Regions from separate parts of the Homo sapiens genome. Here region 1 is linked to region 2. A link means that fine-mapping ties the variant in region 2 to the expression of a gene that starts in the linked region. Tissue or cell type: whole blood. Region 2 holds a variant in brackets; the other region holds the start of a gene. All regions are shown on one strand. Distances are between the middles of the regions. Region 1 holds the start of PADI2 (peptidyl arginine deiminase 2). Region 2 overlaps PADI2 (peptidyl arginine deiminase 2).

Region 1 (8,323 bases), 23 kb after region 2:
TTCTCTGATCGACCCCCATTTGGGTCAGTGGAGACTCAGAGAAGTGAAGCGATTTGCTCAAGGTCACACAGCCCGTGGATGGAAGCTGGTAGGGCAGTGCCTGCCAGGACCACAAGGTCTATTGAGGAATGAGGCTGGGGAGGCCCCTGCTATGTGTCTGGAGGGGATCCTGTGTGCCAGCATCACAGGAAAGGGAGTCCAGAGCCCTTGGGAAAGGGAGTGGGTGCTGAGGCCGTTTCGCTCACCTTTGCGACTCAGAAGGAGTGAGGGTCAGGATGCCACTCCGTAATTAACTGGGCCCAGCACCCCCGGGCCTTGTTCCTTGGGGTCTACTTGGAGGCTCTGGGGGCATCACTTGGGGTCTTGAGCCAGGACCTGTGTCCGGGCAGCAAAGGACTCAGGGAAGAGTGGAGGGCCAAATGGGAGTTGGTGAAGTCTCTGGGGACAGTGGGCTCGTGGCCAGGGTGGAAGAGACACAGGCTGAGAGGGCCGTCCAGTTCAACCCGCTGGTTTTAGGGTCACATAGGACAGAGTGGGGTATAAGAGCATGAGTTCTGAGTCAAACAGACCTGGACCTGAGTCCTGTGTGACTCTGGACAAATGGCTTCATCTCTCTGAGCCTTACCTTCCTCATCTGTAAAATGGGATGATCAATGAACCCTCCAGGGTCTATGGTGAGGAAGAAAGGAGGTGGTGGGTTCAGTTCCTAAGTGCCCACTAATACCTCCTCCTGTTATCAATACTGGCAGTTGCTCTCATTACTACAGGTAACTCGAGTCACAATAGCAGTAACAACTCAAGCTCCTTAGTCCTGGAAGAGGCTTCCTTCCACTGGACCAGTGAGTCTCAGCTGGCTGTGATTTTGCCCCCTGCCAGGGGACTGCTGGCACTGTCTGGCAACATTTTTGGTTGTCACAATTTGGGGGTTGCTACTGGCATCTAGGGGACAGAGGTCAGGGATGCCACTAAACATCCCGCTACAACAAAGAAATATCGAGCCCAAAATGCAATAGTGCGAGATTGAGAAACTCTGCACTAGACCTGTTCTGTCCCGGTGTCACTGGCTCACGGTGGCCAGTGAGCACCTGAGATGCACTCAATCTACGCTGAGATGTGCTGAAGTGTAAAATGTGCACTGGATTACAAAGACTTAGCATGAAAAAAGGAAGGTAAACCATTTCCTTAATAATTTTTATATTGATTGCATGTTGAAATGATAATATTCTAAAATATTGGGTTAAACAAAATATATTATTAAAATTATGCCTGTTGTTTTAACTTTAAAAAAGTGTGGACTACTAGAAGATTTAAAATGCAATTGTGGTTTTGTTGTGGTTCAAACTGGACTTTTCTGGACAGTACTGGTCTAGAGCGCACTGCCCCTCTCTGTGGTGGTGGAGAACCTTAAGTGCCGGTGGGGGTTAGGGTCTTTGTGGTCGTTGAGACAGGACAAGGGGAATCGTCACACTGCTGCCCCCTGCTAGAGGGAGGCTGAGTCCATATCTGCCCCACTCTGTGCCCCTACCCCAGCTGGGCCTCTCTTTGCCAGGATAGAGCGATAGCAGGGCGCCTGAGCAGGAACCCTCCTTTGCTCCCCACCCCCGACTGGGAGGATCATGCCAGCTTTTCAGGCGGCACCAACCATGCCCCAGCAAATAAACAGGTGGGTATGGTGACAGCTGAGGCTTAGAGACCTGAGCACTCTGGCTCCGCGCCCACTCCCTAGCGGTGCCCAGTTCAGGGCTGGGGGTGGGGAAGGCAGGGGAGCTCTTGCACCCCACCAGAGCCTGGACCACCCTCCACTGCTGTGTTCTTGTTCTCAGAGACCACCCAGTCCACCTCTGAGGTTTACATGGGGGACAACTGAAGCCCAGGCCCAGGGGAAGGCAGAGGTTGAGGCCAGGGACAGAGGCATGGAGTGGGTCCCTAGTCCTGGGGCTTGTTGGTATCAGCGTGGCCAGTGCCTCTGCAGCGGTGGCAGGAGACTGGTTGGGCAGGTGGGAGGGCTGCCAGGGCTGTGTGGGGAGACACATGATGGGTTGGTGGGGGCCTGGGAGAGGCAGGGTGCTCCAGGTGTCAGGATGATTTGAGAGCCATAAACCACGATGGTGCCTCCGTGTGAGTTCAGCTTGAGGCAGAGAGGATAGGGGACTCATCCGGTGTCAGCACAGGGTCCCACCTCAGAGTCCTGCATGCTCCCTGCCCCCAGCACTGACCCCTCCAACCCTAGCAATGGGGAGGTTTTAAATGCTTGGAATAGAGGGGGCAGATCAAACCCCAGCATAACCCCACCCTTTCATTCACACCAGCCACACCTTTCCAAGGCCCCGTCCCATTACTCAGGGAGACAGATCATTGGACTTGGCTGCTTTCTGGGATTGCGGGGGGAGTGGTAGGGCCCTACCCTACCTTCAGCTGTCTCGGACATCCCGCACTCTACCAAGTTCTTGGACAGAGAGAAGGGGAGGGAGCAGAACTCTGAATCAGGATCCTTTTCCAACAAAGTACCCCGCTATACACCCCAAGTCCCCGTCGTCAGCTGGGTAGAATATTGTCCCTCTGTGGTCTCAGAATGAAGTCAGGGGAAGGTATCTGGGGACACGGAGCTCAGGGCCAGTGCCTGGGGACAAGCAACCACCAGCAGCCCCCACAGGGCGAAATCGGAGCCTGAGTAACCTCCAGGGCCGGATTCAGCCTCAGGGCAGCTCCCTTCGGGTCCTGCCCCAGTCCCCGGCAAGTCTCCGCGGAAGCTCCGCTGAACTGGGAGTGGGAAGCAGGAGAGGGGCTGGGTTGAGGTGGGTCCGAGGGGAAGTGAGGTGCGGAGGGGAAGTGAAAGGGGAGAGGACGGCAGGGAAGCTGAAGGGGTGTGAGGTCCCCCGGGAGGAGAACTGGAGAGGGCCAGACGGAGGGTTACGGGTGAAAGGGAGGGTCTGTGAGGGAGCTGGGGCTGAGGCTGTGTTAGGGGGTCTGGGAGAGTCTCAGGGTTTCTGGAAGGTGGACACAAGGTTCGGGGGTTGTCAGGTTTCTGGATGAGATTCTTAGGATTTCTGGGCTCGGGGGCTCGGGATGAGGGACAACTCGGGCTGGACAAAGGCTGTCCACGTCCCCGAGTCTGAGCGCGTCTCAGGATTTCTGGGCTCGAGATCTCGGCCCGGGCATCACGGTGGGCCGGCTCACCTGTAGACATCGGTCCAGAGGTAGGTGCCCAGCACGTACACCGCCTCCACGCGGCTCCCGTACTGCAGCCGCACGGTCCGCTCGCGCAGCATCCTCCCCGCCGCAGTGCCCGCGCTCGCTGGTCCGGGGCGGCCGGGAGCACCTGCAGCAGGTGCGCCTTCTCCAGCAGCCTGCGCCCCACGGCCCCGCGCGCAGCCTTATCCAGCGGCCGGTGGGCGGGGCGGCCCGCCCCAGTCCTCTCGCAGTGGGCTGCGGGCCTGTCCGTCAAGCGTGGTCCCGCCCCTAACTCGTCCCGCCCCGCTGAGGTCGTGGCGAAGTCATCAGGGACCAGTTTTGTGCTTTCCATGGTTGGATTGTCATTCTTTCATTCGACAAACCTTCGGTGGGCGCCCAGGTGTTGGAGGGCCCTAGCTCCCCTCCGGACGCCCCAGCCCAGTGGGGCTGAAAATGCAAATGTGGGAACACAAAGAGGGTGCCCTAACCCAGCCTGGGGGCCAGGAAGCCTTCCCAGAGAAGACGATCCTGGAACCTTCTTAAAGGAGGCGTTTGCAAATTAAAGGCGAGGAGAGGGAGCTGCCTGTGCAAAGCCGGGTGCAGCCCGGTACCCCCATCCCCCAACAGTCAGATGAACCTCACCATAGAGAAAACGGGAAGCGGTGGGGATGGGGAACCCGGCAGCTGAGGGAGACCAGGACGCCAAGCCAAGGCATTGGAGGGTGGGAGATGGGAGCCTGGAGTGGTTGTCTCCGCGAGCCGTGGTCGGGTGTGCTCGTGAAATGGGTCATTCTGGGCTGGGGAGGGGCAAGGAAGCCCCTGGCTGTGGCCAGAGCTGGAGAGGTGGGGACTGACCCGGCCACTGCTTAGGGACTGGGATTTTGGTGGCACCTGGTGACTGATAGGATGTGTGGGTGGAGGGAGAGGAGAGGGGTAAGGATTAGGGCCCCGGTTCTGGCCTGGGCCACCAAGGGAAGGGGGGTGCCACCCAGAGGTCATCGTGTGTCTCACAGAGGCTGAGATGTAGGATGACAATCAGTGTGGGCCTCGGCCAGCCCCTCCCATGTCCCAGCCCTTCCCCTGGGACCCAGTGGGAGTGCTGTTCAGACACATACATCAGCCCTGTGTGAGGAAGTGGTCTTTGGTAGGTGAGGACAGAAACTGAGGGGGGGTGGGCAGAGGCCGTGGGAGGGAAGGAGTGGGGCGGAGGGGATGTGTGTTTGGGAAGGAGTTAGAGCTGATGGAAGATGGAGCTCCAGGAACGGGTGCCCCCAGACAAGAGGGGTGAGGCCCACAAGTGCCCAGTGCTGATATACCCAGCCCTTGGACTCCAACCTTCTCCCTGAGGCGGCCCAAATTAGGAGGTGGTGAAGAGCCCAGCTGCTTCTGAGTGGCAGGGATTTGGGAGGAATGTGAGTGGGGAAGAGGGAAGGCCCGAGTTTTAGCCAGGAGGTCATTTGTCCCCCAAAGGCACAGCTCACAGACCCAGGGAGAGGCCAGTAACTGTTTTTTTTTTTTTTTTTTGAGACAGAGTTTTCCTCTTGTTACCCAGGCTGGAGTACAATGGCGCCATCTCAGCTCATTGCAACCTCCGCCTCCCAGGTTTAATTGATTCTCCTGCCTCAGCCTCCCAAGTAGCTGGGATTACAGGCAGGCACCACCACACCCAGCTAATTTTGTATTTTTAGTAGAGACGGGGTTTCTCCATGTTGGCCAGGCTGGTTTTGAACTCCTGATCTCAGGTGATCTACCTGCCTCGGCCTCCCAAAGTGCTAGGATTACAGGCGTGAGCCACAGCGCCCGGCCGAGGCCAGTAACTTCTGATGAACTCCAGGCACCCGGCTGAGCACATCCTCCAATCAGGAGGAATCTCTCGGGTGGCCACCTGCCAAACTGGGACAAAACTTGTGTAGCTTGGAGAGACTTCGAGGCGCCCCCAGAGGTGAGCTCGTGTCTGGGCACCCCTCTGCCACGAGTGACTTTGGAGCCCTTACTGTGTGACAGATAACGGGCACCCACCAGGGTTCTCACCTTCCTGGGGCTCTAACTTTCATTTGACTCATGGGGAGACTGGGGCCAGAGTGGGGGAGGACACTGTACCCCCCACTGACGGAGACCCCGGGCAGCTCATAACAGGACACTGGGCAAGATAGTGATAACATCAGACCGCAATACCCAGGGGAGCTGGAGTAAGAGCGGGCACTTACTGCTTTCTTTCTGTGGGTCAGGCACTGTTCCAAGCGGCTCTTTTCATGTATTAGAGTTAGATCACTGAACCCTCCCAGTAACTCCGCCACTTTACAGATGAAGAAAGTGAGCTGTGAGGAGGTGGGGGAATTGACTCTGGGTTGCAGAGCTCCTAAGAGTGGCAGAGGGAGGAGCTTGCAGGGCCACTGGGGTGGAGGCAGGGGGCAAGGCCGAGTGAGGGCAGGGGCAGAATGCTGTCCATGCTTTGTAGATAAGGAAGTCGCAGTTCTAGGCCCAGCTCTGCTTTTGTGCCGCCTTGGGCCAGGTACCCTGCCATTCGGAGCCCCATTTTCTGCCTCTGTGAAGTAACTGATCCCTCAGCACGGTGTAAGGACGGTATTAAACGAGACAACAAGGTGCAGAAAATACTAGCACAGAGCCTGGCACAAGGCTCAAGAAATGAAGCCCCCTCCCCTTAAAAACCCAATTCAGACCTGGCCACCCACACTCAGGACTCCTGCCCGGGCTCAGGCCATCATGTTGGGCCCAGAGCCTGGTTGATGAGACAGGAGTTTCCTGGTGCCCAGAGGTTTAAAATAGCTGAAGTAGTCACAGCTGTTGGTGGATTCAGGGCCGGAGGTCGCATGCATCACGGCTGCTCCCACCTCTCCCCTGGGATCCGGAAGAGCCACAAAGCATCTCACGGTGTCTTTTGGGGACTTAGCTTAGGCCAGTTCCTGGCACAGACCCGCACCCACCCCTCCAGCAAGCGCCCCTGCCAAGCCTGTGGGCAGGGTGCCTGGGCTAAGAGGGGCTCTTCTGAGCTGTTTTCTGTTAGGTTCCTCCACTGGGTGTGGGGTCTCCGGGCCAGGCCTTGGGGGAACCAGGGAGGCCACTCAAACTTCGACAAGCCTGCTTTGAGGAAACAGACAGCTTACTGAGAGCACTATACATACAATAATTTAAAAAGAAAGAAAAAAATGCACAAGTATTACCTGGTCATTGTGGAAAAGTTAAAAAAAATATGATCACCCATGACCCTAGTACCAGAGATCAGTCTGAATCTATGAGTATGATCTGGCCGGGCTGCCCACAGGCTGCTGTGGGGCAGCACACTTCCTGAGCCCTTGCGCCATGCCAGGAGCTGTTCAGAGCCCATTCACACACACATCTCAGCCTGTTTAATCCTCACGACAGCCCTGTGAGGTGAGAGCTATTATTATCTTCCATCTGCACAGAGGCACCAACCAGCCTGCAGTGAAGAGCATGGACTTTGGTCTTGGTGGACCTGGGGTCAAGTCTGGCTCTGCCCCTCACTAGCTGGGGGCCTCTCTGGGCCTCAGTTTCTTCTTCTATAAAGGAGATACTAGGAATTGTTATAAGGAACAAGGAATAACAAGATGATATCCAGTAAGGTACTGCACATCGTGGCCTGGCACAGACCCAAGTTCCAGTAGACGGTAGTTATTTCCTATGCGTATATAGTTATTTTAAGTTTTTGTAAACATGGGCTTCTGACTACATGCTGTTTGATAACATACTTCAAAGCTTCCACAATGTGAGAGGCTGGGCTGGCTGTGGCCAGGTCACACAGAGCATTGTAAGTCGTGGAAAAGGCTTTGGGGCTTTATCTTTATGGGGTCATGGGGGAAGCCTGGGAAGGACTTTGGAAGGTGTCAACGGCACGATGTACACTTTAGGAAAATCACTCTGGCTGCTGTAGGCAGCTAAATTTGACAGGAATTCTGGCAGGAGACCAGAGAAAGGAAGAGGTCGGGGTCTGGGCCATGGATCCCCAAAGCAATCCTTCTGTGGCCAGGGATCGCCCCAACCCCTGACTCTGCACCATGGGGACCTGCAGTCATACCCTCAAGAGCAGATCCCCATAACCCTGGCCCTGCCTGGCCCCGTCACATTCCCTTTCCCCTGGCAAAGCCCACCCTTTGGTCTCACTCCCTTGAGAAGAGTCTCTGGGATGGGGGCGTTGATTCAGCCTCTGCCTCAGCTCTCGGTCCTGAGAGACATCGTGCTCAGAGGCGGGGAAGGGCTGGGGTGCTCCATTGTTCTAATACTGCGTGAGTTCAGAATGAGGAAGTCATGTCTCTTCTGCGTGCTGCTGTGGCTGTACCCCACTCGGGGGTACATTTATATATGCAGAGAGAGAGATTTATTTTAAGAAATTGGCTCACATGGTTGTGGGGGCTGACAAGCCTGAAATTTGTAGAGCTGGCCAGTCAGAAATGGGAGAAGAATTGATGTTGCGGTCTTGAGTCTGAAATCTACAGGTTGGAAACAGCACGGTTTCTATGTTGCATTCTGGAGGCTGAATTGCCTCCTCTTTGGGAAACCTCAGTCTTTGTTGTTAAGGCCTTCAACTGATTGGATGAGGCCCACCCACATTTTGGAGTGCAATCTACTTTACTCAAAGTCTACTGATTTAAACGTTGATCACATCTGAAAAATATCTTCACAGCAACATCCAGACTGATGTTTGACTGGATGATGGGGTGCCATAGCCTGGCCAAATCGACACAGAAAATTAACCATCACCATGCTGAAAGATGGGCTAAGGCTTTCATTCATTAGGTCACCATTTATGGAGCATTTATTCCCTGCCAGGCACCTGCGCTAAGCACTGTGTGTATGTTATCCCATTGAATCCTTGCTACAACCCCAGAAGTAAGTATTTTTCTTACCCTTATTTTATACATCCAAGGGTAAGATGACTTGTCCGGGCCAGGGTTCTACCCTTAGTCAGTGAAGCAAAGCTAGAAAGGTGAATTCTGGAGAAGATGTAATAAGCCAGTTGTCTGAGGGGCTGCCAGGGGGCCAGAGTAAGCCTGGGAGGTCCTAGACCCATGCTTTCCAACATGTAGCCACTGCCAGACAAGGTTTATGTGGCTAATCTGAACTGACACATGCTGTAGGTGTAAAACAGTGGTCCCCAACCTTTTTGGCACCAGGG
Region 2 (8,323 bases):
CTCTCATCCTGCCCCCCAAGTGCAGGGCCTGCTGGCACCTTCCTTGCTGTAGACCTTCTCATCACGGCAGTCCTCCTTGGGCAACCAGGGTGTCTCTCGGTCACAGTTCACCAGCAGGATGGCCCCCTGGCCCTCGGGGCCCCAGGTCCAGGATGCCTACAGTGGCAGGAAGAAAGGTCAGTGCCCTCTTCTCTATGCTTGTATAGACCCCATGGGACACTGGAGAGATAGCCCCAGGATGAGGGTAAAGAGTAGCCGCCACCCACTGGGGCAGCTGTGACCTGGCAAATGTGAATCTCAAGACTGATGTCCACAGAGGATGAATGTGGGCATCAAAGGCAAGTTCAATAGAGGCACAGAGACAGGAAGGCTGACTGAGGCATTTATGGGCCTCCTGTCTGGTGCAGCTGGTGTCTGGTGTGGGTGGAGGCAGGGAGGTGGAGGCTGGCCAGAGAAATGAGCAGACAGACATTCTACCATGGGTCCCTAGGTCCCTAGGGGAGCTCAGGAGGAGACGCCTGGATGGATGCCACCCAGCTGTTTCCAGACACGCTCCTAGTGCTCCGAATGGGACCTGCATGGTGCTCCACTTTCTACACTGCAGCCATAGCACTACTAGAACAAACTCGGGCCAGATTGTGTTGCTTCCCTGCTTTAAGCCAGGTCAGGGGCTCCCAGTTGAGTTGGCATGAAGCCCTGATTCCTTGCTGTGGCTTGGAAGGCCTGGTGAAACTTGCCTTCCTCTCTGTCTCATCTCCTCCGCCTTGCCCCTCGCTCACTCTGCCCCACCCATCCCGGCGCCTTTCTGCTCCCAAAAGACTCAAGCTCCCAGGCCTTTGCCTATGCCAGTCCCTCTGCTCCTGTCCTGCCCCTTTCCACCTGGCCCACTCTACCCTTCCTCGGTTACAGCATGACTGTCTCTTCTTCCTGGAGGCCTTTCTGATTCTCTAGGACAGAGCAGCTTCCCCGGGTCCACACCTGGCCCTGTACACATCCTTTTTGGGAGGACTTAGGACAACTGTGATGACACAGCTATCCGAAACACTCCATATTTAATGTGGACCATGGGCTCCTTAAGGCCAGGGCTGTGTTTCTCTTGTTCTTTCTGTGTCCCCTGGGCCTGACCCGCTCCTGGAACATAAAAGATGCTCAGCAAATATTTATGGGATGAGTGAAGAAAATGTGAAAACTTCACCGGCCCAGATTTAAAAATTCTGGCCAAGTTCAGGCTCATGGGGATCGTGTGACTTTCCCAAGACTGCCCAGCCCCTTGGGGGAGGTTGGAAGCTGTCGCCCTGGGGCTGCTGGGTTTCAGAGGCCTCTGTGGAGTTCATTCTCATATGGCTTGGCCATAGACTCAGAGAATGAGTGTGCAGGGCTGGCCCTGGTCTCAGGCAAGCCTTGCTCACGATCCTAGAAGAAGGGACTTCCCCACATGGCTGAGAACCCTCTCCTGACCTGCAGAGAGTCAGGGTAGCAGGCTGCTAGGACCCAGGCTTCTCATCAGGCTGTGTTTATTTTACTTCGTAAGTACCCCTCTATGTATACTTTACTCTAGGCTTCAGAGTGTTATTATAAAAGTCACATATGCCCATGGCAAAAATTGAGATAATACAGAAGGGCAGAAAATGGAAAGCAGTTAGAAGCAACAGCCTGAATGTACACAGAGCAAGACTGATGGAGCCTAAAAACTAGGTTGAGGGAAAAGTACAAAACAGAATGTGATGGAGAACACCATGCCGTCTGCACAAATTAAAAATACATGCACACCAACCACACCACATGCCTCCTGAGAGTCACCAGAGCAGAAAGAGACACATTAAACCCAGCAAAATGGTCCTCTGTGGGGGAGCAGAATGGGAGTGGGGAATGCAAGATAAAAGAAAATAAGTAAATGAACGAGGGAACAAATGAATGAATGGTGAATGAATGCAAGAATAAATAGAAAGAGGAGAGGGGCCGTGCATGCACCAGCAGAGATAATACCACGCCTGGAACTGAGAATGATGAATGCGACCCTCTGTCCTGAGGGTCTGTCTCCCCCACCTCCCTAGTCTTAAAAGAACAGGCAAAATAATAAGAGCAAATGCCTTCACAGTGCTTCCTCTGTAGCGGGCACATTTATCCTTCCCAGCAGTTCCATGAATTGGGCGTCCCCATCATGGGATGGAGAAACTGAGACTCAGGAGCCTGCTCTGTTGCCGTCTCTAGGAGATGCCTGAGCTCCTCTGTGGGTTCCATCATTGGTATGCTGTGTGTCTGGGAGCCTGTCTTGGGCTTTAGTCTCCTGAGCTGTGAAATGGGAATTGCCTGCGGGATCTGGGGCTGTGCCCTCGGAAGCCCTGGGTTCAGGGTGGTGCCTGCCCTGAAAGCTAGGTACCTTCTTTGGGTTGTTCTTCTCCACCACACCATCCCGGTCTGCGTCCACATCCAGGGAGATCTCTGGGGAGAAGAGACATGGGTGAGTTGCTGAGCCTGCCAGGCAGGGCAGGGCAGGGGCAAGAGGAAGACCTGTGGGATTTGGGTGCGTCTCAGCCATTCATTTGGTCACGGGAAAGAGAGGACCTCGCTGAAGTCATCTTATGCAACCCCCTGCCTCAACATCCCACTACCCACTGGAGACCGTCAGCAGACACCGTGTGGACCTCGTAGCTTACGGCTGCAAGAGCTGCCATCGGGGAGGTCTGGGACCTCCTACCACTTCATTGTTCTGGCTGGGGGTTGGGGAATGATCCTCGCTGCACAGATCTGGATGCCTCAGTTCAGAGGTGAAGTCGCATGCCCAAGATCACATAGGGACGCTAGCAGAACTGGGGTACACAGTGCGGTTGGTCTGATTCATAGTTCATATTCTGAAAACTTAACAGGGATAGCATTCCCAAACTGCCTTTCTCAGTCTACCCGGGCATGCGCATAGGTGTGCACATGTGCACCTGGGTGTGCGTGTCTCTTTCTCTCCCAGAACTTCCAGTGGGCTAGATCCCACCTTCAAGGACTGAGGGTTTTACTGTGGGTGGGAAGCTGTCTCTAACCCCTCTTGGTCTGAGGTCACCTGTGAGTCTAGATGGAGGATCCAGGGCCAGGCCCCCACTTATCCCTTCTCTTGGTGAAGGGACCCTCAGCATCCCTAGGCCTGCCATGGAGACAGGCTTTGTGGAGACTGTAGGGAAGTGAAAAGGTTTAGTATCAGACAAGGTGGGGTTTAGACCCTGGTTCTCTGCTTATAAGCTGTGTGACTTTGGGCAGGTTAGAGGACCTCTCTGAGCCCCAGTTTCCTCACTTGTAACATGGGGCCCTTCCTGGTTACAGCAGATGCATTAGCTGCAATGGAAGGCACTACTGACATTTTTGAGCCAAATAACTCTTTGTGTGGGGGCAGCCTGTGCATTGTAGGATGTTTAACAGCACTCCTGGCTTCTACCTACCAGATGCCAGTAACATCCCTCCCAGTCGTGACAGCCAAAAATGTCTCCAGATATTGTCAAATGTCCCTTGGGAGGCGAAATTGCCTTGAGTTGGAGACGGATGAGGTCGAGTAGGGATGTGGTTGGGAAGGTGTTGGGAGTGTCACACACATGACATGTGCCCGTTCCAGGTCCCCAGAGCTGCCCGAGTGGGCTCATCTCACGCTGAGCATGACTTGGACCTGGTGGGCGCTGGGTGGTAATGAATGCATTCCTGGTTAGTCCCCGTGGCAGGCACACCCTCTGCCTGGAGGGCATGGAAAGGAGGGTCCTGGCACACGAAGTGCACTGATGTCACCCTTCTCTGGGCCAACCAAGCCCAGAGTCCAGAGATCACATTCAGGTCCTCCCTTTGCCTATAGCCTGCATACCCTAGACCTGCATGTGACTTTTCCAGTCTAGAAGGAGGCTGCAAGGGCGCCTGGCCCTTGAGAGAGGCAGTCTTGTGTGTCCCAGCCTCTGCAGCTGTGCGGTGAGTTAGGTGCTGTAAGGCATAATTTGTAACCTCCTCCCTCCGATCGCATTCACTCCACATTTCACTGCTGAGGAGCTACTGCTCCGGGAGCTGTACCAGGCAACGGGCAATGGAGGCACAGCACCTGCTCTCAAGGCGTCCACAGTCCCATGAGATGAATAGCATTGCTCTCGTTTCACAGGGCAGCAAACCCAGGTTCAGAGAAGCCACTTGTCAGCAAATCGGGCTGGTAATCTGGGAGGCTGGTGCAGGATAAGGACCCCAGGGGAAAGAAGGGAAGGCGGTACCACCAGGGGCTAAGAGCCTGGGGTGCAGGGGCAGGAATAATACTGGTTTTGGTTCCTGGACCTTTGTGAACTTTCCAGCCGGTCACGTCCACTGAATGCTGCCTTTCAGGGAGCTGGCTTCCTGAAACTCCTCCCTCGGAAGGAGCCGCAGGTCCAGCCTCTTTAGGGAGCCACTCTGTCCTTTTCAAGGTAAAAATTTCTCCCCTGCGGGCATCCTGCTCTGCAGCTGCACAGCGTTTTCCAAGGTGTGTTCTCTCGGCCACTCCAGGGGAGGCGTGACCACCCCCACCCCCTAACGATACAGATGAGGAAACCCAGGCCCGCAGCAGGGAAGTGACCACCGAAGTTCCCAGAACGCAGAGCCAGGCTCTCAGCAGGGCCTCGGACTCCGGCTGCCTGCTCTCTGCTGTTCCCTGCAATGAACCCAGGCTGACCTCCCTGCAAGCTGTTTCCAAAAGCCCAGCCCAAAGTCAAAGACACAAGACTTGCTCCCTTGAAGGTCATTCCCAGAGGAAGTGCCCATTTCCCCACCTTGGTAGCCCTGCGGCCTTCGTCTCTAGGCCGTAAGGTGACATTACATTGGGACTCCTTGTGGCGAGTCCATTAAAGCAGTGGGGCCGTGGGCTAGGAGAGAAATTATGGTGCAGTCTATACTGCTTCATTTCATTATGAATTCTTAAATGGAAACATTTTATTCATGTAATATTTGGACATAGTACAAACAAAATCAAATAAAATAGTAACACACTGTTTCTAAAGAAAGACAGCAGTTCCTTGTCCAGCCCTTCTTCTCAGCTGCCTAAGGCAACCTCTCTCATGCTTATTGC[G/A]ATTTCCTGATTTACTGAATTCAGACAGGTTTCGTTACCTTCCTGTTACGAAATGTGGGCATTTCACAGTGTGGCTCCCTTATCGTCCTCCCAGCCTCTCACAGGGCTTCATAACTCCTCTCTGATGACCCATGACCTGTCCCCATAATCCACTGAAATGACCTTCTGGCCCCTTCACCCTCAGAGACCGCCCACCCTGTAGTCATGCCCATGGGACTTCGCCCCTGCAAGGCTTCCCCCAATGTCTGATTTAACTAGATTCCAGTGGGATGCTGCGGGTAGGGGCAGAGAACAGGGCTGGTGTGACCTGCCCAGAGCATTGCCTCTTGGGATGGCTCTGCCTTCCCGAGGGGGAGGAGGGAGAGGAGCTCTGCTTCAGGGCCTCCAGGCTCCAGACGACATTTCCCAGAGGCTCTGGATCCCACCTCAGTTCCCCAGAATAGCCCCAAGGCGTCAGGTGGCTCCTGGGTGTGGGGCAGATTGACGGGAAATGTCCCTAGGATTGGGTTCAAGGCAGTCTGCCCTGAGAATGAAGACACTGAAGCCTCAGCTCTGACCGAGAGGCACAAGCATTTTGGAGGGTCGCCAGAGAGTGGCAGGGTGCCTGGCCTTCTTGCCTTACTAAGCAGCTTGAGATGTTATGGGAAGGAAGGACACCCTCCCCCACAGCCAATCAGGGCAAGTATCCCAGCCTCTGGGGAGAAGGCATAGGATCAAGCCCCTTAGGTTGATGTTAAAATTTTCTGGGGCCCGCATATGTGTACTCCTTCCACTGCCAGGACCTCAAATAGGGTGGGATTCTTCCTCCCTCCCCACACCTCACCTCTTGCTCTCCCCCATCCCTCCCAAAAAATGGAAGTCTTTGCAAATCAACCCTAACCAGGGTCTTGAAGGTCCTTAGGGATTAATTAGCTCAAACCCCTTATTTTATAGTTTGTAAAAAGTGAGTCCTAGTGGGGGTGGTTACTTGTTAAGGTCACACAGCAAGTCCTTGGCGGGATTGGGACAAAGACCCAGAGCCTGATCTGGCCAAAGGAATCATGAATTTGCTCCCAAATCCCAGAAGGAAGAAGGAGAGACCATACATTTCTTTAACTTCACCCAGGCAGAGAGAAAATGCGGCCACCTCAAGAGCAAGAGAGAAAAGCAGGCGGAGCATTGACTAAGCACCCACTCTGTGCCGGGCCCTTCGCACACAACATCCCACTGAATCCTTGTAAACACCATGCAAGGCTGCTCTGTGAAGCGCATTTTATAGATGAGGAAGCCAAGGCTCAGGGGGATGATGTGACTTGTCACAAGCTGGCTGGAGGGGACAGAGAAAGATCTTAGGCTTACTTCTGTCTACCCAGAAGCCAAGGCTCTTTCTGCTCAATGTGGACTCAGGATAGGACCAGGGTGAGAGAGATTCAGATACATTTTTGTGCCCAGGGGACAGTCCCAGCCTCTCAAGATATTGGGGTTGGGGGGGGGCTTGCCTCTGAGGCGCTGCCCCTGAGTGATTGATTACTCAGGATGACGGGCTCAAGGGCTCCTGGGGCAGATGCTCGAGAAAAGAGAAAACCTAGAAGGGACAGAGAGAACAGTGGTCCCCAAGGGAAACCAGATTTTCACCAGGGTCTCTGTTGGAACAGGAAACAGAAGTTCAATGGTGTTAGTTTCTTTTTGCAATTGAATGACTGTCTCTTATTCTGTTTTTTGTTTTGTTTTGTGTTATTTTTGAGACAGAGTCTCATTCTGTCGCCGAGGCTGGAGTGCAGTGGCACTGTGTCAGCTCACTGCAACCTCTGTCTCCTGGTTTCAAGCAATTCTCCTGCCTCAGCCTCCTGAGTAGCTGGGATTACAGGCGTCCACCACCATGCCCGGCTAGTTTTTATATTTTTAGTAGAGACAGGGTTTCACCATGTTGGCCAGGCTGGTCTTGAACTCCTGACCTCAGGTGATCCGCCCACCTCGGCCTCCCAAAGTGCTGGGATTACAGGCGTGAGCCACTGTGCCCGGCCATGACTGTCTTTTATTCTGAGATTATGCCTTGCCTATTTTTTAAGAGTTAAAATGATAGTGATAGTTGATAGCAAATTTTTTTTTTTTTTTTTTTGAGACAAAGTCTCGCTCTGTCGCCCAGGCTGGAGGGCAGTGGCACCATCTTGGCTCACTGCAACCTCCACCTCTTGGGTTCAAGCAATTCTCCTGCCTCAGCCTCCTGAGTAGCTGGGACTACAGGTGCGTGCCACCACGCCCAGTTAATTTTTGTATTTTTAGTAGAGATGTGGTTTCGCCACATTGGCCAGGCTGGTCTCAAACTCCTGACCTCATGATCTGCCCACCTTGGCCTCCCAAAGTGTTGGGATTACAGGCGTGAGACACCGCGCCTGGCCACAAATTGTTTTATTGATGTATTTTTTTTTCTTTTTTTTGCCAAGCATCAAAGTTGTTAGTGTTCTCATTTTTTGGGGGGTGGGGGCAGGGGACATTTGATTGGCCCATGGAATCTAAATATCTGGAACTTGTGGCAGTTAAATAAATAATTATTAACAGACCTCGGAAGGATGAACTTGGTCACTTGTCGTGGGCACATGTGGCATCTTTTGGGACTCAGCCATGCCGCCAACTCTGAGCGGGCTTCCTCTAAGCACAGCTTTGTCATCTCCTAGTGAGGAGGAAAAGTCCAGTCCTGCCTCCTTATAGACGCTTATTTTGCCATCTATCCTAAGTCTGTCTTGCTTTGGTGGAAGTCTTGTTAATGGTGCAGTCAGCCTTCTGGGATCATCCTCATTTGACAGGTGTCAGGCCCCTGCCCTTCCTGCCCCCGTCCTCAGGTGTCCCTATCTTGGTGGGATTAGGTTTCCTCAGGGACTGTCATCTGAGACTGCCTGGATGCTGTGTGCATGCAAGGTTCACACACGTGCCAGGGCTCAGTACAACCCAGGAGTCTTTGTTGATCATCTGCCACCCTCACCAAGGTCATCCCGAGGTTCCCTACCCCAGGGCTGGGCACCTCCTTGGGACAGAAAGAGGGACAGGGGGACCAGCAACCAAGCCCATTTGGGAATTAGCCAAGAATGAGAAGGGCCCTGCTGCTAAGCCTGTTTAAGCAGCTGAGAGCACAGGGCTAGAGAGGAAGGGGCTGGCTCGGGAGTTAGTTGTATCTTGGGGAGATTCTGAGACCCCCCCTGAGAATGTGGGATAACTGGAATGATTGGCATCTCACCAACCATTTTCTGGAGATGTAGCTGCAGGCAAGTATTTGTTTTACCTTTTCTGAGCCTT

Evidence for each region. PIP is the estimated chance that this variant, and not a neighbour inherited with it, causes the effect.
Region 1: PADI2 starts here. The variant in region 2 is fine-mapped to the expression of PADI2 in whole blood (INTERVAL, PIP above 0.99). The same link has a PIP of 0.9 or more in blood mononuclear cells.

What each region holds. Positions count from the first base shown.
Region 1 is chr1:17,116,103-17,124,425 of GRCh38, forward strand. It overlaps PADI2 (peptidyl arginine deiminase 2), which reads right to left and starts at 3,349. Exons shown (of 16, transcript NM_007365.3): 1 at 3,178-3,349. The coding sequence starts at 3,269. RefSeq lists silencers at 3,159-3,368, 5,891-6,074 and an enhancer at 3,940-4,474.
Region 2 is chr1:17,093,529-17,101,851 of GRCh38, forward strand. PADI2 (peptidyl arginine deiminase 2) reads right to left here. Exons shown (of 16, transcript NM_007365.3): 4 at 2,381-2,442; 5 at 39-156. Among named protein-coding and RNA genes, the nearest start is that of PADI2, 22 kb to the right of the region's middle. The variant G/A (reference allele first, on the strand shown) is at 5,054.